Regions from separate parts of the Homo sapiens genome. Here regions 1, 3 and 4 are each linked to region 2. The links come from fine-mapping of genetic effects on gene expression. A gene starts in region 2. Each other region holds a variant in brackets. All regions are shown on one strand. Distances are from middle to middle.

Region 1 (5,000 bases), 130 kb after region 2:
AAAGTTACTTGGCTCTGGAATTCTGTGGCTATTCACGTGGACTCTGGATGGCGGTCACCAAGTAGAAGAGGGGCCCTGGGATAGAGAGAAGTCTCCTCTCCTGCTCCTGATTTCCCAGGCCTCTCCCTCTCCTGGCCCTCCCTCCTTTCTTCCACTTCCCCGGATTCCCTTCGAGTTTGTTGAACTTTATTTTGTTCGATTCAATCCCCCTTCCCCATTCCCAGGCCCCATGATGATCTACTCGTGGCCAATCTTGTTTCATCTGCACCCCCCACTTTCTCCCACTGACTATTATTTGGAAGCATATCCTGGCCATCGTATTAATGGGTGTCTTTTCCATTTGTGTTCTTATAAAACATGCACCACTGTTCTCCACATGCGTGTGTTTAGTATGTACATGAACGACATGTTCTGTCTCTGTTTTCACGCCTCATCCAGGCATGGTGCTTCCTCCTCTCCTCTCCTTCCTCTCTTTCTTTCCTTGTCTCCCTTCTTTCCTACCTCAACCTTAGACTCCAGGACTAGGGTGGCTCTGGAAGGAAGGCCCTGAGCTGCCAGCCATAGAACTGCTAGGAATTCAGTCAGGTTTTATTTAGAATGCTCCCCTGCCAAGTATGTGCCCCGGGCAGGGCCAGCGCCTGTGTGCACTCCTCACCACAGGCGGCCCGTCCGTTTCTTCCATCAGGCCCTCCTGGGCGCCTAGTTCTCCTGCTCCCAGAGCACACATGATCTTAACTGGGTCTCTTCTCCTGAATCCCTGGGGAAAGAGAAAGACGCCTACAGCACTTTTTTCCACTGCCCCTCTGTGGTCAGCCTTTGGTGAGGGGAACTGGAAGGGCCTTCTAGATCACACATCCAACTCCCTCAATTATAAATGAGGGCACTGTGGACCAGAGGAGCCAAGGGCTTTCTCCAGGGTCACACAGTGGACCAATGTCAGGGACCAGGAGGGTCCAGATCCCTCAGTTCCCAAGCCCTACATCCTCACGTCCAGCATGCACGTGCAAGGCCAGCATGCCCAGCCTGGAACTGGAGACGCCGATCAGAGGGCCTGGCAGGCTGCTGCCGGTGCCCATCTCACAGGCCCCGAGGGCTGATAAGGATGCCCTTGAAGGTGATTGATGGTTTGCAAAGCACCCACTTATTAGTATTTCCACTGGACCTCTGAAAACAGTGATGGAGATAGAGAGATTGCATGTAACTTGGGACTTGGGAGGTGGCCTGAAATGACTGTGACCCAGCTGATTTCTCTGAGGACTTAGGAGGAAATATCTGAAGTTGGACTCTTCTTGACTGGGCCAAAACCAGATGCTTCCCCGGCTTCTTTGCACATACTTTTCCCCGTGCTTTCTTGTTGAAATAAGCAGCATTGTGGAGTGAGAGGCATTTGGAATGTGACTCCTCCGTTTACTTACTCCTCCACCTAGGCAGAATACTTTGCTTCTGTTTCCTTTGTGTAAAATGGGAAGACGATAGAACCTCCTTGGTTAGGACTGTGGTGAGGTGTCAGTGAATTAATGCGAAATCCACATAGAACCATGCACTATCACAAGCGTTTGCCATTATCATTCATAGTGTTAGCATTCATAAGCGGCATGATTGTCCCAGCAGCCTTGAGAAAGGGTGGGGAGAGCACTTTAATCCGTGCTTCACAGATGAGGAAACTGAGGCACAGAGAAGGTCCCCAGCCTTCCCAAGACCCCACAGTAGGTGAGTTGCAGGGTTAGTCTGCTGTGTCCCAGATCTGTGTTCTTTCTGCCATGCTGCATTGCCACTCAGAGAGGAACAACCTGATCTAGAAAGTGAAATTTTTTCCAGCCGCAGCTGCTGCGGCTACATTTGTGAATCAGCTCTGTAAATACAAGTTTAATACGCGTTGTTCCTGCTCAGTGGGCGTTGATAGCCCAGCCCTGGAAGAGCCTTTAAGAACAGGCCTTAAATAGACACACCAGCTCCATGCTTCAGTTTTGGGAGGCTGTACCCCATAAAGGAAGGGTGCAAGGGCCTGTGGGCTGACAGGAATTACAGACCGGCTTCCAGGTGGCCCCACCACCTGTGCTGGGCCCCTGCTGGGCTCACTTGACTGTCCCTGAGCCCATCACTCACCCTTTTGGAGCAATTTTTGAAACAGACCGCTAAGTACCCAGGGTATTAGCTGGTCTCATCCCTACCATGCCGGGGAACAGCATTTGGATCACCGCAGTAGCAGCCCAAGGAGACACACAAGTAGCTGCTTTCTCGGACTGTATTATTTTCTGAAAGTAAGAAACTTTCCCTGGGCAGAACTCTTTCTAGTTCCCATGGGGATGGGCAGGATAGGTGAGAGGCCGAGCCCCCACTTCCAGGTCTCTGGGCAGGGCGGGGTTAGGCAGCAGCGGGTGTCACTCACACAGTGACTTTCACTTGTGCTTTCAGTGCTCAGGACATGGGCACCTGCCGGCTTCCTTCTAG[C/A]CCGGTTGGACAGCTCCGGCAGCTGGTTTGGGGAGGTAAAATTATAGGAGCGTGATGTCACCCGGGCCACTCAGGGCAGAGCCTGGCTGCTGGGCAGAAGGGCACTTGGGCCGGGCTGCTTCAGCCGAGAGGGCCATTCGGTGTCCTGCCCACAGAGAGAGAAACAGTGAGAGACCAAGAGAGCAAACCAGAGAGATAGGGAGGGGGAATGCAAGGGGTCCCTGGGGGACTCAGGAGTCCCAGTGGAGAATGAGAGGCAGGCCCCCCGTGGTGGCCGGGGCCCTGGCTGCCAGAGGACCGGGCTGGTGAGGAGGCGAGGATGTGGACTTTCGTCACCCAGCTGTTGGTCACGCTGGTGCTGCTGAGCTTCTTCCTGGTCAGCTGTCAGAACGTGATGCACATTGTCAGGGGGTCCCTGTGCTTTGTGCTAAAGCACATCCACCAGGAGCTGGACAAGGAGCTGGGGGAGAGCGAGGGCCTCAGTGACGACGAGGAGACCATCTCCACCAGGGTGGTCCGGCGGCGGGTCTTCCTGAAGGTAACCGCCTGGCAGGAGGCCGGCAGGGCTGGTGGTGTGGGCGCCGGAGGCCGGGGCTGAGGGGACGCTGCTGTGGGGAGCTCCGGACCCAGAGTTGGGAGACGCCGGAGGAAAAGGACCAGGAGGCCCCCAGGGATCATGTTCCACCCTGGGAGCCAGAGTGTGTGTGCGCCCACCAGAACCTGCCCTCTGGTGCCCAGTGCATTGTGACAGTGACATTAAACACTCAGCTTTGGGTCTCGGGAGGCTGCGCTCATCCTGTTTCTTTCTTTGTTTCTTTCTTCTTTCTCTCTCTTCTCTTCTCTTTTTTCTTTTGTTTTTAGAGATGAAGTCTTGCTGTTTAGTCCAGGCTGGAGTGCAGTGGCATGCTCATGGCTCACTGTAACCTGGGCTTACTGTAAATTCCTGGGCTCAAGTGATCCTCCTGCCTCAGCCTTCTGAGTAGCTGGTACTACAGGCACACACCACCATGCCTGGCTATTTTAAAAAAATTTTTGTAGAGATGGGGGCTCGCTATGTTGCCCAAATTGGTCTTGAACTCCTGGGCTCAAGTGGTCCTCCGGCCTTGGCCTCCCAAAGTGCTGGGATAGCAGGCGTGAGCCACCATGGGATTGCACCCGGATCGTCCTGTTTCTGTCACCAACTGGCTCTGGGGTTTCAAGCAAGTCACATTCTGGGTGATGCTGCCTGTCGAAGGGCTTTTCTATACTGCAAAGTGCTGTAAAAATAGGAAACAGGTGCCTCACTTCCTCTCTCAGGGCCTCCTCCGTCAGACTTGCATAATTGCCCCCATTTTGCAGGTTCCCAGGGGGTGTTGTGAGGGCCAAGTGCACAATTGTGAGCTCGACCGTTCGTCTTCAGGCCTCCCAGACCCTCAGGGGCGCCGCCCACGCCCTGGGAGCCCTGGCATGGCTCCTGCTACATGCTGAGCCGGGTTTCCTGCTGGGGGAGTTATTGGGCCATGGCTATTGTGGCTACTGCTGTTTCATTTCCTCGTCCTCCACCCTTCCTCCCAGACTCCCACTCACCAATCTTGCATTTTCTCCCTTTCTCTAATTCCAGGGGAATGAGTTTCAGAATATTCCAGGGGAGCAGGTGACAGAGGAGCAATTCACGGATGAGCAGGGCAACATTGTCACCAAGAAGGTGGGTGCAGAGTGTTCCCCTCTGTGCTGGGGAGAGGCAGGTGGGCTAGAAGCTAAAAGGTGGTAGAAGCCAGTGGCTTCTCCCTGCTGCCCTCACAGCAGGTGAGCACAGCCAGGCTGGCTGCCCCCGTGCTCAGGAGGGATGGAGGGCCCAGGAGCTGGGAGCTTTGGTCATCTGCAGTCCAGTCATGGTGTCCTCACAACCGCTTTGTCTGAGTCAACCTGAATAGCTTCTGCTGCTCTTTTCCAGAAGGGCCAGCCCCCAGGAAACATCCCAGACCTAGTCCCATGATGCCTAACCCTGAAAACAGCTGTTAAACAAGCAGTTTGAGCATCCCTGGCCTACCATGGGCCTCCTCAAATAAAAAGAATGTGGGCCGGGTGTGCTGGCTCACACCTGTGATCCCAGCACTTTGGGAGGCCAAGGCAGGAGGATCGCTTGAGCCCAGACATTTAGACCAGCCTGGGCAATATGGCAAGACTCCATCTCTAAAAAAAATTTTAAAAAATAAATAAATACACACACACACACACACACACACACAGAGAGAGAGAGAGAGACACACACACACACAAAATTAGCCAGGCATGGTGGCGCATGCCTGTAGTCACAGCTACTCAGGAAGCTGAGGCAGAAGGATCACTTAAACCCAGCAGTTCAAGTCTGCATAAGCTATGATTGAGCCACTGCACTCCAGCCTGGGTGACAGAGTGAGACCCCATCACAATAATTAAATAATTAAAAGGAAGTGAAAATGCATTGGATTGGTAGCAGATATTAACTCAGAGACATGACCTTGCCTGTCAAGTGTGGGGCACGGTGCTAGCTATGGGTAAAATAGAGGAGGAGCTGAGGCAGGATCTCG
Region 2 (5,000 bases):
TGCCCACCGGAAGCACTGCACAAGGAACTAGCAGGATCCTAAGCTTTGGAATTATACTCTCTACCTACAGGATGTTTCCTACATCATGTGACACTCTGTGTTCATATGCTGGTGTTCTCTCTTCTGAGTGTGGGAACTCCAAAGAGAAAAATATTGTTCCTCCTCTTCCTTGGATGGTGAAACGGCTTCTAGCTTTCGTCACTCCTGCTGGTGACAACCACGGGTTCGTTCCAGAAGCCATTACTGAGCACTTGCTATGTTCTGAGTCAGCTAATATTTAAGCTTCATTCTTGCCCCTGAGTGGGGTGCATGCCACGCTGCCCCCTCATGAGTGAGCCTGGCCCAGTATGTGTTGCCAAGTGAGATCATCTGTCCTTCGGGGAGGCTGTCTGAAATCATGTCTAATGTGACCTGCTTCTTTTACATTTTTTAGCTTTCTGGCTCCCTCAAAACAAACAAACAACAACAACAACAACAACAAACAGCCATTGTTTTGAGTCCAAGTGCTTCAAAAGGCTCCTGCTTAAGGACTGTGCTGTGGTAGACATGGCGGTTCCTTCTAGCCCACATGTGGCCTAGAACTCTGTCAGCTCTGTCAGGCACTAGTCCCCGGGGAGATGGCCCAGCGTCCATGGGGTGCGCTCCAGCTGCTGTGGAAAACACAGACGGGTCATGAAGCTGATCTCGGTGGCATCTTTCCGCAGCAGCTGTGCCCTCATGGCAAGGCCAGTTTGGTGCTGCGGGAAAGCTCTAAAGCCAGATGGCGGCCTCGTCAGGGGACCTGGACCAGCGTGGGCCCAGCAGGAGGCCAAGCATCACGTGAGGAAGGCTGGAGAGACCCTTCTCAGGGAGGACTGCACCAGAGGCCCCCAGCGGTGACACCCACCCCTAGAGGAAACCATGGAGGGAGACAGCCCCCACCTTAATGGCACCACCCCCAGGGTCCAGGGAGGCTGCCATGCCCCTGGCCCCGCAGCTCAGCTCCTCGGGGTCACCTGTTCCCTCTGCCAGCCACCAACTGCCATTCCAGGATATGGTGTTCTCACTGATAAAGCCATTCTGGGCAGATGACATCTCATCCCGTTGTTGGACGGGCGGACGTTGCAAAAGGCGGCTTCCTAGGCCAGGCCTGCAGGAGCTTGGCCTGGGATGGTCCAGCCTGGCTGGTGGGCAGCCCCGACCTTCTGGCAGCTGCGGGACCGCCTGGGCGCCCCCCTGCCCGCGCCATCCCACGCCCTCCTAGCCGCTGTTTGCGGTGACTCACCTCGGTTCCCAGGAACGTTGTTATTTTTGGCCCTGGTGTTATTAAGATTGTGCCCAGATTCCCTGCAAATCGGCCACTAAGCAGCATGGGGCCCTAGTGAAAGCACGCGGAGAACAGAGGGGGCAGCGCGCTTCGGGAGGCTCCCCGGCCTTGGAGAGCTCCAGCCTCCCCGGGGGGCGGAGGGGCCGGCCAGAAGGACTCCTGCGCCCCACACCCGCAGCGCCGACAGGGCGTGCGCCCTGGCTCAGCGCTCCCCGACTGCTCCCAACCCAGGGGCACCCAGGGCCGAAGCTTCCTCTACAGAGCCTCCCCCTCCTTAGGAAACAAAACAAAACAAAACAAAAACCAGGAAAGGCAAATTGTGTAGATGCCACTAAAAAGAAATTCCCGCTTAGTATTGCTTCCCCTGCACCCAGCGACTTTTAGACAAGCAGAAGAGGAGATGCCCTGCCCGCGACTAAACCGGACTCCCTTTCATTTACTACCCTCTCAGCGTGTGGCCTGATGTCCAACTCTGGGCTCTGAACTCAGCTCTCCCCGGCTGCTCTCGACCCCGGGGCAACCAGGGGTCCGCGCCGGCCGAGGCCTGGGGAGCGGGGCCTCCTGGGGTTGGGGGAGGAGGTGCTCTTGTAATCTGCGGTCCCCAGGCGGGCGCCACCCCTCCGCCCGCCCGTGCCGGGAGCGCCCGGCCCGACAGCAAGCGCCTCTGGGGCCGATAAGGCCCTCGGGGGCCTGGCCCGCACGTCACAGGCCCCGCAGAGGCTGCGGTGAGTCCGCCAGCCCCAGCTGCTCCTCCTCAAGCCCCCAAGGCCCTTCGGCGGGCCCCTGCTGAAAGACCGGCATGCCCTATTCTGTGGGCTTCCGCGAAGTGAGTACTGGGCGGCTGCTCGGGTGGACGGGGAGATGTCAGGAGGGGGCCACCCAGGCCGCGCCAGTAGGCAGCACGCGAGCAAGAGCAGCTTTGCACACCCCACCCGCCTCGCCTCCCCGTGGGCTCCCTGCCTTAGCATAGCGGCACATCGACCTTGTAGCTGAAGGCAGCAGGTGGACTCTGCCCTACTCGCTGAAGCCAGTTTCATATTTTTTACATCCAGAGATTTGCTGTCAAATTGAGTTCCAACTACCTGGGTCTCTGAATTATGTCCTGTCAGCAATAGCGCTGGGGAGGGATGGTTTTTGGATTATAGTCCAAATCTATTGAGATCTTAGAGGCTTTCCTTTGAGTCTGCTAAACTGCGTTTTGTAGGTGTGTTATTACAGGCTGCGGGGTGGGCCACCCGGCTAGGGGGCTGTCACTGTCATTTGGAAGGGGACTTTGGCTTGTTTTCTCAAAGACTCACGGAGGCCGGTGGTCTCATGGTCACACCTGCTCGGTTCTTTTAATTTATGTTGTTAATTCATGGAGAGAAATATGTCTACGAAGGAAGGGAAAGAGCGGCGGCGTGGCCTGGGGAGATAGGCTCTCATGGATATTTTTCAAGTGATAATGGCGCGTTAGCAAGGCCACTCCAGCCTTCTTGTTCTCCCTGTGTAGATAGAACCCGTCCTATCTCTGCCTGGCAGCACGGCCAGCCTGTGCCATGTGTCAGTGTCCTTTGTTGGGTACGGTTCTTAGTTTAGTGATGGATTCAGAGCCCAGAGTTGGACATCAGGCCACACACACGCTGAAAGGGTAGTAAGTGAAAAGGAGTCTGGTTTAGTCGCGGGCAGGGCATTTCGTCTTCTGCTTGTCTAAAAGTCGCTGGGTGCAGAGGAAGCAATACTAAGCGGGAATTTCTTTTTAGTGGCATCTGTACAATTTGCCTTTCCTGGTTGATTTTTTTTTTTTTTCTAAGGAGAGAGAGGCTCTGTAGAGGAAGCTTGGGCCTCCCACTTTAGTTCCACCAGCGGCAAGCAATTCAGGTTAAGTTGGTAGAGTCTTTTTCCTCTTGTGGCACCACTCTAGGGCAGAGGTTCAGGGTGAGTCTTGGAGACCTGATCATAGCCAACTTTGGAAGGAGGCAGGTGACTGCAGGTGTCCCGTGCAATGTGTGAACTGTCTTCAGACTCAAACGCAAGTGTTTTGCAGGAATAAGGAATGGCCGATGGAAAAAATGGGTAAAATTAGCCTTCTTTCACAAATCAAGTTACAGCCTCAAGCCACTTTTCTCTGTGTCTCAGTTTTCTTGTCTGGGAAATGGGTCTGCTGTGAGGCTGAAGTGAGTTACTCGGTTATGAAAACATTAGCAAAGGGGACAGAGGCTTGAAGACGTTTATTGTAACCAGGATCCATAGACTCAACTCACCCTTGACTTTATGGGTCAATTATAATTAGTTTCTTCTCTGTTATTGGTATATAATAATTTACATATTTGTGGAATACATGTGAGTGTTTGTTTCATGCATAGAATGTGTACTGACCAAGACAGGGTATTTGGGGTGTCCATAGACTTGAATGTTTATCATTTTTACGTGTTGGTATCATTACAAGTCCTCTCTTCTGGTAACTTTGAAATGTACACGGTATTGTTGCTATTATAGTATAGTCACCCTAAGCTGCTATCAAACACCAGAACTTATTTCTTCTATCTAACTGTATGTTTGTACGCATAACCAATCTCTCTTCATTCTCTTGCCCCCCACCCACCCTTCCTGGTCTCTGGTATCTATTATTCTATTCTCTAGGTCCAAGAAATCAACTTTTTTAGCTCCTATGTATGACTGAGAACATTCAGTATTTGTCTTTCTGTGCCTCGCTTATTTCACTTAGCATAATGACCTCCAGTTACAACCACGTTGCTACAAATGACATGATTTCATTCTTTTTCGTGGCTCAAGCAGCTGTAATTAGTTTTTATATTTATTTATTTAATAATAATTATTATTATTTTTAAGACAGAGTCTCGCTCTGTTGCCCAGGCTGGAGTGCAGTGGTGTGATGTTGGCTCACTGCAACCTCTGCCTCCTGTATTCAAGCAATCCTCGTGCCTCAGCCTCCTGAGTAGCTGGGACTACAAGTGCGTGCCACCATGCTTGGATAATTTTTGTATTTTTAAGTCTCAGTCTCACCATGTTGGCCAGGCTGGTCTCGAACTCCTGACCTCAGGTGATCCACCCGCTTCAGCCTCCCAAAGTGCCGGCATTACAGGCGTGAGCCGCTGCGCCTGGCCTATAATAGTTTTTAAACCCAGGTTGCCACCTCTCACCCCAAAATGGTTCTGCCAGTGTCTCTGCAAAACCAGCTGACTTATTTTGAGATTAATCAAACTGCAATATATTTAGAAAAGCAGGGTTTCAGTTGTTGGTGTTGCCAAAATGAACAGAGAAAATAAGAGTGTTTTCTAAAGGTGAAGTGACTAAAAACCTTTGTCCTCCAGGTCTGTTTAACAACCTTTACGGCCAGGCACGGTGGCTCACGCCGGTAATCCCAGCACTTTGGGAGGCCAAGGCAGGTGGATCATGAGGTCAGGAGTTCGAGGCCAGCCTGGCCAATATGGTGAAACCCCGCCTCTGTTAAAAATAAAAAAAATTAGCCAGGCGTGGTGGCGTGTGCCTGTAGTCCCAGCTACTTAGGAGGCTGAGGCAGGAGAATCGCTTGAACCTGGGAGGTGGAGGTTGCAGTAAGCCGAGATGGTGCCACTGCACTCCAGCCTGGGTGACAGAGTGAGACTCTGCCTCAAAAACAAACAAACAAACAAACAAAAACCTTTAACAAGCATTTATGAAGCACCTATTGTGTATTAGGTCCTGTTGGGGC
Region 3 (5,000 bases), 24 kb after region 2:
AGGCTGGTCTCAAATTCCTGGCCTCAAGTGATATTCTTGCCTCAACCTCCCAAAGTGCTGGGATTACAGGCATAAGCCACCATGCCCTGCTAACTGTAGCTTTATTATTATTATCTTCAAATCAGTTCCCCCTTCCTGCTCTCACTTCTGTATCTCATTGTCTCTGCGGTGAATCATCATGGGCTAGAGGGTGTGGACGGGGCCTTCCAGGCCTAGTTCCCAATGGATGGTTCAAGGCTACCTTCTCCATGTAAGGGAAGCCTTGCTCCAGAGGCTGGACAAACTCCAGGGGCACAGACCCCAAATTTCAGGGTCACAAGCCCCTCTGGAATCTTGGGCAGGTCTCTCTGGCTGGCAATGGGCCACCCATCCTGGCTCTGTCCCTTGGGGCAAATTGTTCAAATAAAGGAGGAGTCTCAGGGTACCCCCTGGTCGGCCCCGCCTGCTCCAGATGGCAGCTTATATCAGGCAAAGTTGCATTTCTAAGGAAGGGTGGGAATCTTTCTTCATTGCTGAGGAAGAGCGTGCCATGCAGGGCTGTCCAACGCCTGGGCATCCTTCAGAAACTCTGGAGCCATGGGGTTCACTGCCAGTACTTAAGCCTGTTTGGCAACTTGAAAAAAAAAAGAAGAGTCCCTATTTTCCCTATTAGCACCTTCCCAATGATTTTGATTTTGCATTTTCTCCAGTATGTGCTCCTCCTCCTCGCATACCAGCAGGCCGCAGAGGAAGGTTTCCCTAATGTTTGGAAACACTGGAGGTAGTTTAGTAAATGGGCCCATTCTGGCAGTGCCGCTCATCCACATTTTCCAAAATGTGTGTAATTCCACTCTAGTCTCGGCTCCCCAGTCCACAATATGTTCTGAAGTGTCAATTCTAAATGCAGCCCATTCCTTGCGCAGTGGGGAAATGTGGCATGCTCTGCGGCGTGGGCCAGGGTGCTTGGTGATGCGGGTGCACTTGGAATTCTATTTAGGCACCCACAAGACACCCCAATATCTTCCCACCCTCAGCAGAAAGATGTGAACTATTGAAGAGCTGTCTGCTTCGCTGCCTTGGGACTGAGGAAACAATTGCTCTCTTGGGCTTGGACTGGCAATTTAGGACTAATGGAGATTGTGGGGAAAGGATGGGCAGGGCAGGTTGGGGTGTGGAGGCTTTTTTCTGCAGCACGGCCCTGGCCCTGGGATGGGAAGCACCTGAAACTTCCCTGCCCAGAAGAGGACAGTGGTCCCCAGGCTGTTTCTACAGGGGCTATAATAGCACGTGGGGACATTGACAATTTAGTCAACTAGCCCCGAACATCTGATTCATTTAGAAATCTGAGTTGACTGGATTCCAATCCAGCTAACGTTTATGGAGCCTCTGTTGTGCGGCCAGCATTGTGCTTAAACTCATGTCTGTTGTTTTCAGCATGACTGGTGGGAGCTCCTACCTGGTTGACATGGGGCACAAAACTGCATCATGTTCTGCTCAGGAAACATGTATTGAGTGGTGCTTCTGTGCTAGGCTTGGGGATTCTGAGTTGAGCGGAGATGAGAAGAGACCTCGTCTCCTACTTCCCTGCCCAGGGGGTCCTGGGTGGTCCCAGAACTATTCAGCAGAAGCATTTGCTTAATCTCAAGGCATTTTGTTCTTTAGGAATTCTGGTTCTATTTCTTATCCAAAAAGAGACACAGATACTGAAGCTGAAATTTGTTATTGTACATAAAACATTCTGTTCGCTTCATCTGGTTATTTGATGGGAAACAGTGGCGTTTGGATGCCTGTTTATTTCTCACTATTGGGAAAATAATCCTGTCCCCCGCAGGCTTGCCACTTGGGTCCACTCCCCATCCTTCTCCAGCACCGGGACTGGGTTTCTGGGGAGCTGGGCACCGTGGCCGTGGGGAACTTAGACTTTCCTTGGATCTTCCTGTTGTAGATTCTCGGCTGTGGGCTCTGCAGTGCATGCAGGAGGGAGCGGGGGTTCCAGAACATGTGATTTGAAAGTAGGAAGAAGGGGGAGATGCCGGATATATCAAAAGCACATGGAGTTTTCACACTGGGGGTAGAGGGATTTAAAAAAATCTCAATTCTGAAAAAGAGACCCGGTGTGCAAAACCCTTTCCAACTCACGAGCTCGTTAGGAGTCGAATTCCACCAAAGCCATGCCAAAGAGTGGGCCTGTAACCCAAGAGATCCCTTTGGAAGGACAGTCAATATCTGATCCCAGGAATAAGGGGAACCCCTGTGTGTGTGAAGAGAAAATCCTAGGTTCAGCTGTGCCTCCCC[C/A]CTTCCCTCCCTCCTCCAGGGATCTCGGGTTTAATGTTGGCCCTTTTTGGAATCCACACAGCACCTTTCTCATGGGTTTAAAAATAGACTCCAGGGCTGCCAACCCTCTTAAAAAGAACATGATGGAGATTGGTGCCAACTCTGTGGGGCCTGATCCGGGCTCTGATCACCTCCCTAAATAGACCCCCGCACTTGCCATCCCTTACTCCAGCCAGGCCGGGTGCCCAGGACACCTTAATTGACCACTGGGCACTCCCTACACAAAGTTAAATAGAAAAACAACCAAGACTCCATTCCTCTCTCCCTTTCTTCTGTCACTGCCATTAAGGTTAAGAAGGAATGACCAGGTTTAGGGGGGGTCAGGCTGGATTTCTGATTGAATTCAATGTGACATTTGTGTGGAACATTCTGTAAAGTTCCTTCCTAGTTAATAACATTTCCCCAACAGCGATGCTCCTGGTGGCTGACACACTCCCCAGGGTGGTCGCTGGCTGGGTCTGAGTGGCGATAAACCAGCCTGCCTTTCTCGGTAAAGGGTGGAGTTCCTGGTACCCACCCTTATCAGTGGTGCCCAGAGTCTCTAGGAGCAGGGGCGGCTCCTTGGGTGGGTGAGGATGGAACAGATGGAAGGAGGGTCAGGAGGAGAGCCCAACGGGTCAGCTGGCCACAGCCAGCAGCAGGACACTGCAAGGGCAGCTGCGGACAGGGAGCGTGGGGGCACAACTGAGTCCACACATTGTTTCTTTGCTGCAGAGAATATGGGCATTGAAAAGGGTGCATTGTAAGCCCAAGAGGTCTGGGTGCAGGGTAGAGCTTTGAGATTTCTTGGGATCCTGATCTTGACCATGGATGTTTGACCCTGGGTAAGCAGTGATGAGGCCTTGATTTTCCAGTGTTGAAGCAAGATCAGTGACAACCCACACCTCTGGGGGAGACATTAACCTTTGACAAAAGCTTTAGTCGAGAAGAAATGGAGGGGAGGAGGAAAAAAGAGCATCAGCTGTCATTGATAGAGCACTTACCAAATGTGCCAGAAGTGGTGGTCAGCATTTTACATTATTCTCCCAATATTGGAGAGATGGGTGAAGCTATTTTCACTTTACTGATGAAGAAATCAATGCTCAGAAAAGTCATTTCCTTTATCAAAAGCTGCACAGCTCAATTGTGGGAGACCTACTGATTTAGAGCCTCTTAAGAGGCTGTCCAGAAAGCAAATAGTGTTGTTGCTATTGAGTTCTGGGTTTGAGTTGATTGCATAGGAGGGTTAAGCGCGACGGTCATTGCCACAGGGCCTGAGCTGCCAGGATGCCCTTCTCTCGAATCCTGGGGCTGCCCTGATCTCAGCTCTGATGTCCCTGTAGAGAGGAGCCACTTCATGTCTCTGACTGGCCACCATTTGAAGCAGCCCGGACCTGTTCTCCCAAATCATCCTGGGGAGGCAGAGTCGCCTGAGAATCCCACTCGCATGGGATTCTTTGCTGCAGGCTTGTGTTCTTCCAGCTCGTGAAATCCCTGCAGGAATTGACAGCAGCAGCAGCCCATCAAGTGTCCCAGAGTCCCTGTCTATACTGAGAACAGCCCACTGCATCAAGCCAGGAGCGAGCTGGGGGTTTAAGTGCTGCATAGTCTATTTCTTCCCTTTCTTCTCTCCCACATCATCCCTGCTTGGCATAGCTGCATGTGGCCCAGAGGACAGAACCCCACAGGCGAGGCCTCCAGCTTTTCATTATGCTTGTCTGCAGAGAGACCTGCAAGGAGACAGTAGGTAAAATATTTAGCAAGACGGGAAAAGCCTGAAGACTCCATGAAGCTACAGGCTAGAACAGTGGCCTGTGTCTGCCGAGAGTCTTTAGCCTTTTCTTCAGCCCATCAATTCCTTTCTGGTGGTTTGTTTTGATCTCACTAGCAAGTTCTTAGCACACTAAATGCCTACGTTAAAACGTGCAGCCTTGAAGTATGAACAAAATGCAGATGGAGAAGCAGGATGATTATTTGTGGTCTAAGGGTGTGGTTGTGATGGAAGGTTGAGGGGACAGTCAGTTATGGGGAAAAGAACAATAGTTTAGCTTTCTGAATCCCTAGGGCCCAAAGAGACCCTTCCAAGTCGTACAGCTTACCCAGTGGTCTATATGCCAGATCAAATGTTGAGGTTTTTTTTTTCTGCCATCCTGAAGGATCTCCTGCAAAGATTAAACCCTTTCTGAATAAAGAGTTCTATTAAGTCACGTATCTCTTATAGCTGGAAAGTTCTTTCTGTGGAATCTAAATCTTTTCCATAGCAATTGAACCCCAAGACTTACAGTTTCTTTATGACTCATGGAAGTGTTGGGGACATCATTCTTCTAACACCAGTCAGTAATCACTGTGTTTAGCACTGCCCGGCACTGTGCCAGTCACATAGAGGAGTAGGTGGGGAAAGCAAGGGAGAGGGACTGGGAATTTGGAACATGAGAACCAAGCTGTCTCTGCCTGGGAGACATTTAGAATTCAGTCCTGGTGGCAGGCCACCACACCTGGGACTGGGCACCATATAATTAGCTCCAATGTGGCATTCCAGGCTGCAGTGCTGGAATTTATGTTTCAAGGGCTCTCTCCCTTAGCTTTATCATCTCAGCTCCTTTAGCCTCAGGCCTCACTGAGCAACATGTTTGTAGTTGTGTTCTTTCTCCTCCTCTTGGGCCTTGCCTGACTCATCGCCTGCCTAAGTTTTTCAAAGCCTCAACCCT
Region 4 (7,869 bases), 140 kb after region 2:
GTGGGAGGATCGCTTGAGCCCAGGAGTTCAAGGCTGCAGTGAGCTATGATTATACCACTGCACGCTAGCCTGGGCAACAGGGCAAGACTCTGTCTCTAAATGAAATAAAAATAAAGAATGAAAGAGACTCTTTTCTAAGCTTTTGAAAGGTGAGGGGACCCAGGAGAAGAGGCCAGAACAATGCAGGAGTCCTGGGCAGAGTGAGGTGGCCTAGGTCCTCATCTCACCCCTGCTCTTGCCACTGTGCCTCTAGAGTCTCAGTTTACCAAGGGATGAAATGGGCAGTCATGCCAGCATGATCTCTGAGGTCTGAACTTTCTCTTCTGCTCAGTGCCTGGGCGGTAAAGTAGATGGGAGATCCTAGCCTGTCTTTCCCAGGCTGCATATTCCATGATGGTCTCTTATTTGAGGAGCACTTCTTGGGGCAGGCACCGTGGGGAGCACCAGGAGGCTGTTCTTGCCCTCAGTGTTTCTAATCTAGTCAGGGAAATATGCAGACATCAAAAAGCACAGATGGACAGAGACGGTAACATTTCTAGAGAGCCAAGTAATTGTTTGCATTCATACAATGCTAAGCACCTATGTGTCTTAGCTTTTTTAAACATCACACCTCTCTAATGGGTAGGCCCTATTACTGCCCTCATTTTACAGCAGAGAAAACTGACTCACAGAGCAGGTAAGGCACTTGACCGAGGTCAGGCAGCATGGGACTTGAACCCGGGTGGTCTGGCTCCAGAGTTCATGCTCTTACCCACTCGACTCTGCCATCTCCTGAACAGAAAAGGCAGCTTTTTTCTTTTTTGTATTTTGTATTTTTACAAAATACAAAAGGGAGAGCTTCCAGAGTGGAGAGGGGCCTGCTCCAGGAAGGATCAGGAAGGTTTTGTGGGGTGGAGGTGTTGAGGGCGGCAGGCAGAACCTCTGCAGAAAAGAGAATGGAAGGCAGCCTTGACAGAAGCGTGACCGAAGGCAGAGAACAGGAGGGTAGAGCGTGTTCAGAGGCTTAGAGGAGACAGTCAGACTTGGCCGATGTGATGGCCCAGCAGTGATGAAAGCATCTTCCCTCTACGGTGGCAGCACTGTCCACCCACTGCAGCAGCAGTTCCTGGCTTTACAGTTCTACAGCAGCCCCTGGCAAGGAACCTGGCACCACCCTCCCATCCCTGGGGAACCACCCAAGAGCTGAGTTCTCCCTACTCCCTTCCAACACTCCTCCCCAACCCCTTCACCTGGAGGACCCAAAACAGCTCTATGTCTGGGGATGGCTCCACCTCCGAATGAGCTCCTGCCTCCCTGTGTCACTTCCCACCCTGCCCAAGAGATTGTCACCTCCTCCTTATTGAAGCATCCTCCTTTCCCCAGTGGTCCCAGGGCCCCTGCAGATAGAACATGAGTGGCTGGTCTTGAAAACATGGAGTTTTCACCCCAGGTTGGAGGCTGGAGGCCCCATGGGGGCAGGAGAGGTTTCTCACTGCGAATCCCAGGCTGAAGAATGTGGGCTTAGTTCCTCCAGCAAAGCTGCTCTTTTCCAGCCTAAGACTCAATACAGGAGGAGGAGAGGAGGATGCATCTGCTTTTCAGAGATCTCTGTCCATCTGAGGGGCATGGGGAGAGCAGCCAGAGGCAGCGGTCAGGAAGTGCTGTGGGCCAGAGCTGAAGGGGAGCTGTCACCCTTGAGGCATGAGCTCCCAAGGCCAGGGAGCACATCCGCTCCATCCCTGGGTTCCCAAGGCTGGCGCATGGCGGACATCAGTGCATGTTGGCAGAGCTGAACTGAGAAAGTGAAGGCCTCACCTAGCCTCACCTAGCCCCTTCTTGGCACAAGCCCTGGCTCAAGAAAAATGGCTCTTCCTAAGTACAAGGATCTGCTGGGGGATGTCTCCCCAGGTGACCACGTAGGCACGGGGGCCTCTGCCCCTCTCCAAGGGCACAGAGCACAGTGCTCTCCTTGGCCCATACAGAGAGGCATCCTGGAACACTTGCACACTCAGAAGGAATTCATGAGGCCTGGGTGGCGGCTCTGAGGAACAGCCTCTGCATAGGGAGCAAGAGAAGGAGGGCGGCATCTCAGGAAGTCGGGCTGCAAGTGCAGCACCCTCAGCACATCGCCCTGCCTGGGGAGACTGCTTTTCCTGAGTCAGATTCGGCCTGAGCTGCCAGCACAAAACTCTGTGTGTGGGGTTTTTGCTGGACGTTGCACTTTTGCATTCTAAGTGACTCCTTCTCTCTTTGTGTCTCCCAGGATCACACCTCGACACCCAACCCCTGAACCCCACACACTCTGCCATGCACACAGGAGGAGAGCTGGACCTGAGGGCCACCGCAGCGGTGCACACATTCCTCTGGGCTGACGGCATGACCTCTGTAAGGGACTCCTGCTAGTCCCCTCTTGGCATGAATGACTGACTGTAGACGCATGACCTCCAGGCTTCAATCCTGCCTCTTGCAATGACAGCTGATCTGTCGGAACCAGGACACAAAAGCAGCAAGAAGCGGGGAGAGAGAGGGATAGAAAACAAGCGCAGGAGAGCCTGCGAACGCAAAAGTGAATGAGGGCTTTTTGTGGCTGGGGATGGGTTTTGGTTTTGGGGTTTTTTTTTTAAATTGTTTTGACTTCGTACAGGGTACTTTTTCCCAACCTCATCTGTCAGAAATCCATGTGGGCTTCCTGGAAAGAAAAAAAAAAAAAAGAAAACTAGGCATGAAATCAGTTTAACACCTTAATCTTAAGCCATGTCCTCATCTGCCCACCCTCCCCAACCCACATACCTCCATTCCACTTGTGACACCCCCTCGACTCCCTGGTGACGCTCCTCCCAGATCGCTCTACATGACATTCAGGACACACACACACACACACACAC[ACC/C]ACTCGCCTCCACTGAATCTACACACAGATTTTACTGTGACTTCTGAAGCTGTATAGACTCTGCTGTGGATAAATTGGAATTTTTTATGTTGTCTCTCTCTCTGCCAATTTCAATACGAATCATCTTCCAATGGAAAATCATTACCTTGAAGAGTGCATTCGGGGTTCCTTGTGTTAGGGACTTAAGAATCTGAGGCGAGGACCCCCAGGCTTACCTGTAGGACTCAAAGGGAGCCAGGACCCCATCTGAAAGGGTCTCCTCTCTCAGTTGGGGGACAGGCCGGTGGCTGACCCAGGATTGCACCAGCATGTCCATAGAGAAGAGGTTTTCTATGTCTTCAAGCACTATATCATAGTCCGTGTTCAAAGTGTAAACTGTACAGTAATCAGCCTTGTGTATATGAAAAACAATAAATACTATGCAAACCAATAGAAACATTTAGCAGTACGTACAGAGCCTGACAGCGCAGCTCCTGAGGACTTCTGCGGCTGCAGGAGAAGGAGCTGTGGCCTGTCTTTCAGTGAAAGAGGAAGGAAAGGAGTAGGGCTAGTGAATGTATCTGCCAGGTCTTAGAAGTCAGGACCACCCAGGGTCTCCCAGAGTGAACTTGGTGCTCTAAGTCCAGGCAGCCTGCAGGCTGGGGACCCTGGGTGCAGGTGCCAGGCTCGAGGCTGTTCCCTGTCCTGCCTCAGTGCCTCCCCTCTGCCCAGCCCCTGTGGCCTCTTGGAGAGGCGAGCCAGGGGGCTCCCCGGACCGCATGGCCGGTGAGAGTAGAGTCGGAGGCGGAGAGCCTGGACGCCCAGAGGCCGGGGCCAGGCTCTGGGTCAAGGCAGGAAGGAGACAGACAGCTGGCAGTTCCTCGCCTCGGTGCCATCAGGGAGGAGCCTTAAGTTCCACTAGAGCCTCCGGCCCAGGGAGGCCAGAATCAGCACAATCCCGGCCCCGCCCTCGCGGCGGGCGCCCCCAGGGCCAGGAGAGAGAGACAGGGCTGGCTCCTCTCGCCCCTGGAGCCGCGGTGTGGACGGCCCGGCCCCGTCCGCCCCGCCGCTCTGCGGGAGTGTCCTCGGGACACACTTAAACCTTCCAAGTAGCACAGAAGCCCCCTCCACGTCAGAGGCCCCCTGGCCGCGGGGCCTGTGAGCGGAGAGGGGCCCTGCTTCCCACACAAATCCGCCCCGGTGCACCCCCGGCCAGGCAGGCCCCGGGGCGGCCTAGGCGCCTTGTCGGCCGGGGGTGGGGCTGCTTTTGCTTCCTTTAGAGGGGCGGGCAGGGAGAGGAAGCTCTAGCTCCGGGCCTGAGTTTCCCCGAGGCTGCGTCGGAGGAGCTGCAGGGCGAGCCCGGACGGCTGCCGTCTCCGCCAGAGGCCACCCCGGCCCGGCCTCCAGGGCGCAGAGGCGCCCCCCTCCATCCTCCCCCATCCCGGGGGCCACGGCAGGGGGGCCGCACAGCGCGGCTGGGACCGATTCGGTGACGGCCCAAGGAAGCTGGGCTCAGGGCTCGCCTCTCCCGCCTCGATCCTGCACCTTCCTCTCCCAGGTCGCTGCTGCAGCCAACCCAGTAGCCCCCTTAGCGCCCCCGCGGACCCCGCAGCTCCAGACTCCGCTTTGGCACCTCTGCTCCGGCTGGCATGGCTGCACGCTCCGGCTGCTAGTAGGAGCCGTTAGGGGAGGAGTTTGGGGTCTCCACACGATGCCTAGAGAATGCTGCAGTCTGCACATTAGACGCTTTTTAGAAGTTTTGAAATTACCTTGATTTTTTTAATTGTTATGAAAATGGATCTTTTCTTGACTCTCCCACATGCTCTGTTATGGGAGAGAATCCCCTACCCTACTCTGATGTATAGACCATTCTCCCTTCACCAGCCGAACCAATGTCAAAATTAATAAAGAAATGGACTAATGGCACAGGGCTCTATCTCTCCTTCCCGCTCGTCTTTGGGGGGTTAGGGGTGCTGAGGCCAGCGTAAAGCCTGGGTTGTGATGTGAAGGAGTCTATGGGTGGGGCTCAGGTCCCAGAGAGCCCGCCAATGCCCAGTCCTCCCAGAAGCCTGGACAACCCTTTAATCAGGACCACCCACCTGAGAGATGCCTCCAGAGAGGTGGCAGAGTAGCTTTCTGTTCCACCTGATGGCTCCCATGAGATGGGGAGAAGTTGGGGGTCTGGGGAGGGGCCACCACAACCCACCAGGGTTCTTGGCCAGGCCCCCAGCTGGCATGCACTGAGGGGGCCCCCCAGCATTCCCTAGGAAGGCATCTGGCCCCAGTACTCAATGCCATTCAAAGTTCAAGAACTTGTTCTTGCTGTAGGGAAAAAATTGCCCTATTCCTAACTAGTTGCTAACACTTCCTGCAAGGCTGGTCACCAAGCTGACCTCAGTTTCCTCATCTCTCTAATGGGAGAATGGATTAGGTGGTTGCTAAAGTCTCTTCAGTTTCTCATCCTAGGGGCGCCAGACACCAACGCCTTTGTCAGGCTTGGCATTAATTAAGAATCAAATCATTGGCTGCGGCTTTCCTGCCACATAAATTCCCATCATGAGGGGATGACGGAGTCACAATCCCAAGGCCCCTGGAGCACCCCAGCCCCACCCCACTCCCAGCCTCTCTCCTGGAATCGGACAGGCCGTTCAGGCCAGTGGGCAACCGCAGCAGGTCATCTGCAGCACCCATGGGGCTTTTAAAAATGCAGTTTCAGAATCACAGTTGCCTGGGGGGAATTGGGTGGTGACACCGGGAACCAGAACCAGGTCTACCAGATGGCTGTGGCACGCGACCTGGTGGCAAAGCCATCTCAGACGAAGACGTAGCTCTTTTCTCTTTAAACCAAATTTGTAGGGAATCATTCCACACCCTTTGTGAGATCTTTCTTGCATAACCTAAATCCCTGTGCTACAGAGGGTCAACTTCTGCATGAGAAGGAATCCTGCCCTGAGCCTTGGGTCCTCTGCTCCCCACTGAAAACCAAGACGGCCTGGAAACCCAGGAGAAGCTCAGTGAAGCAGTGCCTCTAGTCTCCCACCTACCAGGGCGGCCTCTGGGGAGTGAGAGAGCAAGCCCTGCAGAGCCCACGCCTGGTCAGGAAGGGCTCTGGGGCCACCAGGCACAGAGAGGAGCAGAAGTCCATCTGTCTGGCAGTCACAGTCTTTCCTAGCATTTTACATGTTCAGGCCAGTGGCATGCTAGTTTCCAGTTTTAGAGAAAAACTGCAGGGAAGAATCCTGCCTGGTCCAGAAATCACCCATGTACCTGGAAAGTGGGCTCCAATTCCTCTATACCTTGGTTTTCCTGTTTGTAAAATGAGAGCTTCCCCCAATAGAGCCTTGTATGTTGTAAAAATTTATTCGAGAAAAAAAAAAGCATATGCATGTTCTGTGATTCAGCCCAGTCCACTGCATCAACTACTAACTGAGCACCGACGGAGTGCCCGGCACGGGGCTCCACCACCCTCTCAGCCATCAGGGATTTCAAACCCGGGCACCACGCCAGACAGAGCATGGCCATTGCTCCAGCAGAGGCACAAATGAGGAAGAGATTCTGATAGGGAGGTCACGGAAGGCCGACCAGAGGTGGAGGCAAGAACATGCGTGCAGGGCGGCCCTCTCTTCAGCCTCCTGCAGTTGGAGGACTCACACCCCGGCACTGTCAGGGCTGCCTACGCCCCGCGCTGCCCTCTTCCCAGCAGGCTCCCACCCTAGGCTCTCAAGCCAGCCACAGGGACTTGCATCCCCCAGAAAGCAATGCCACTCAGCCTCTTACCCCATCCCCGCACTTACCCCCATCTTATGCCACTTACCCCATCCCCGCATGCGGAAGGGAAGGAAGCGGCTGCGTTCTCCTGTGGAGCTTGGACATGTGCACATAAAGGGGCCGGCGCAGCTCCGGACAGTGGCCTCTGAGTCCAGCCTCCTCTTCCCTAGGGGAGCAGCTGTAGGAACAGTGACTTCCAATTGCCTTGGGAGCCTCCAGGGGCCCCCAGACGCTCACCTTTTCCTAGATGCTAGACTTGCGGGGAGCAAATGGACCCTCCGGCGATGAGTAGGGCTTCTAGAGCTAATTCTCTGTCTCTCTCTCGCGCGCGCGCGCATACACACACACACACACGCGCGCGCGCGCGCGCGCGCGCACACACACACACACACACCCTGGCTGATTGTACAGTCAATCTTTCAAAGTGCAATTTGTCTAGGAAAAGCCAATGTGAGGCCCGTGTGCGCCCCGACCAATGGCGGCGCGGCTCCGGCGGCTCAGCCAGTCTCCGGCCTGTATTCTAATGGGCCGTATCTTTATCAGGGAAATGTTCCTTCTCTGAACTTAAAACTTCTCATGGAGGGTCCCCCGACTCAGAGGCAGAAAGGGGGTCTGAGCTGAGGCTTAGGGGGCCACCCTGTCCGGCCAGGGCAAGGAGAGAGGCCAGGAGCCCTGGGGAGGCCTCCCACCTGCCCCGAGCACCTGACTTCCGAGCAGCTGATCGGGTGCCGGTTCCTGGGCCAGGGCCTGGCCCATGCCTTAGGTGGGAGGCAGTCAGGAGCTCGGAGACGGTCCTAAGCCTCCAGGCCTGCCATGAGATTTGGGGCTAGAGAGTGGGCTCTTGGGTTTTAGGGGCCTGGAGAAGCCTTCCCTGTCCTGACTGGGAGATCATGGAGTCCAACCTGCAGGGGACGTTCCTGCTGAACAACACGCCGCTGGCTCAGTTTCCGGAGATGAAGGCCCCGGTGTGCCAGTACTCTGTGCAGAACTCCTTCTACAAGCTCAGCCCCCCAGGGCTGGGCCCCCAGCTGGCCGCCGGAACCCCCCACGGGATCACGGACATCCTGAGCAGGCCCGTGGCTGCGCCGAACAACAGCCTCCTCTCCGGCTACCCCCACGTGGCAGGCTTTGGGGGGCTCAGCTCGCAGGGGGTCTACTACAGCCCCCAGGTAGGGAATTTTTCCAAGGCTGGGAACGAGTACCCGACCCGGACCCGGAACTGCTGGGCGGACACGGGCCAAGACTGGCGAGGCGGG

Alleles and levels. Positions count from the first base shown, and alleles are read on the strand shown. Sizes are in standard deviations (SD) of each study's normalised expression. Not every link is listed here.
For the expression in esophagus mucosa of the gene that starts at base 2,022 in region 2, C is the low allele of the variant in region 1 and A is the other (large effect, 1.8 SD a copy in GTEx).

What was found. PIP is the estimated chance that this variant, and not a neighbour inherited with it, causes the effect.
Region 1: its variant is fine-mapped to the expression of ANK1 in esophagus mucosa (GTEx, PIP above 0.99). The same link has a PIP of 0.9 or more in nasal epithelium.
Region 3: its variant is fine-mapped to the expression of ANK1 in tibial artery (GTEx, PIP above 0.99). The same link has a PIP of 0.9 or more in aorta and gastroesophageal junction.
Region 4: its variant is fine-mapped to the expression of ANK1 in whole blood (INTERVAL, PIP above 0.99).

The regions. Positions count from the first base shown.
Region 1 is chr8:41,662,794-41,667,793 of GRCh38, reverse strand. It overlaps ANK1 (ankyrin 1), which reads left to right. Exons shown (of 43, transcript NM_000037.4): 40 at 4,052-4,135. Among named protein-coding and RNA genes, the nearest start is that of MIR486-1, 4.8 kb to the right of the region's middle. The variant C/A (reference allele first, on the strand shown) is at 2,452.
Region 2 is chr8:41,794,644-41,799,643 of GRCh38, reverse strand. It overlaps ANK1 (ankyrin 1), which reads left to right and starts at 2,022. Exons shown (of 43, transcript NM_000037.4): 1 at 2,022-2,132. The coding sequence starts at 2,106. LOC105379392 (a long non-coding RNA gene) reads right to left here and starts at 1,866. Exons shown (of 3, transcript XR_949708.3): 1 at 1,265-1,866; 2 at 1-650. RefSeq lists an enhancer at 1-949.
Region 3 is chr8:41,770,689-41,775,688 of GRCh38, reverse strand. All of the region lies in intron 1 of ANK1 (ankyrin 1), which reads left to right. Among named protein-coding and RNA genes, the nearest start is that of ANK1, 24 kb to the left of the region's middle. The variant C/A (reference allele first, on the strand shown) is at 2,275.
Region 4 is chr8:41,650,127-41,657,995 of GRCh38, reverse strand. It overlaps ANK1 (ankyrin 1), which reads left to right. Exons shown (of 43, transcript NM_000037.4): 43 at 2,243-4,771. It overlaps NKX6-3 (NK6 homeobox 3), which reads left to right and starts at 7,179. Exons shown (of 3, transcript NM_001364841.2): 1 at 7,179-7,869. The coding sequence starts at 7,504. RefSeq lists enhancers at 1,509-2,042, 3,869-4,662 and silencers at 3,842-4,181, 4,202-4,271, 4,292-4,341. The variant ACC/C (reference allele first, on the strand shown) is at 2,865.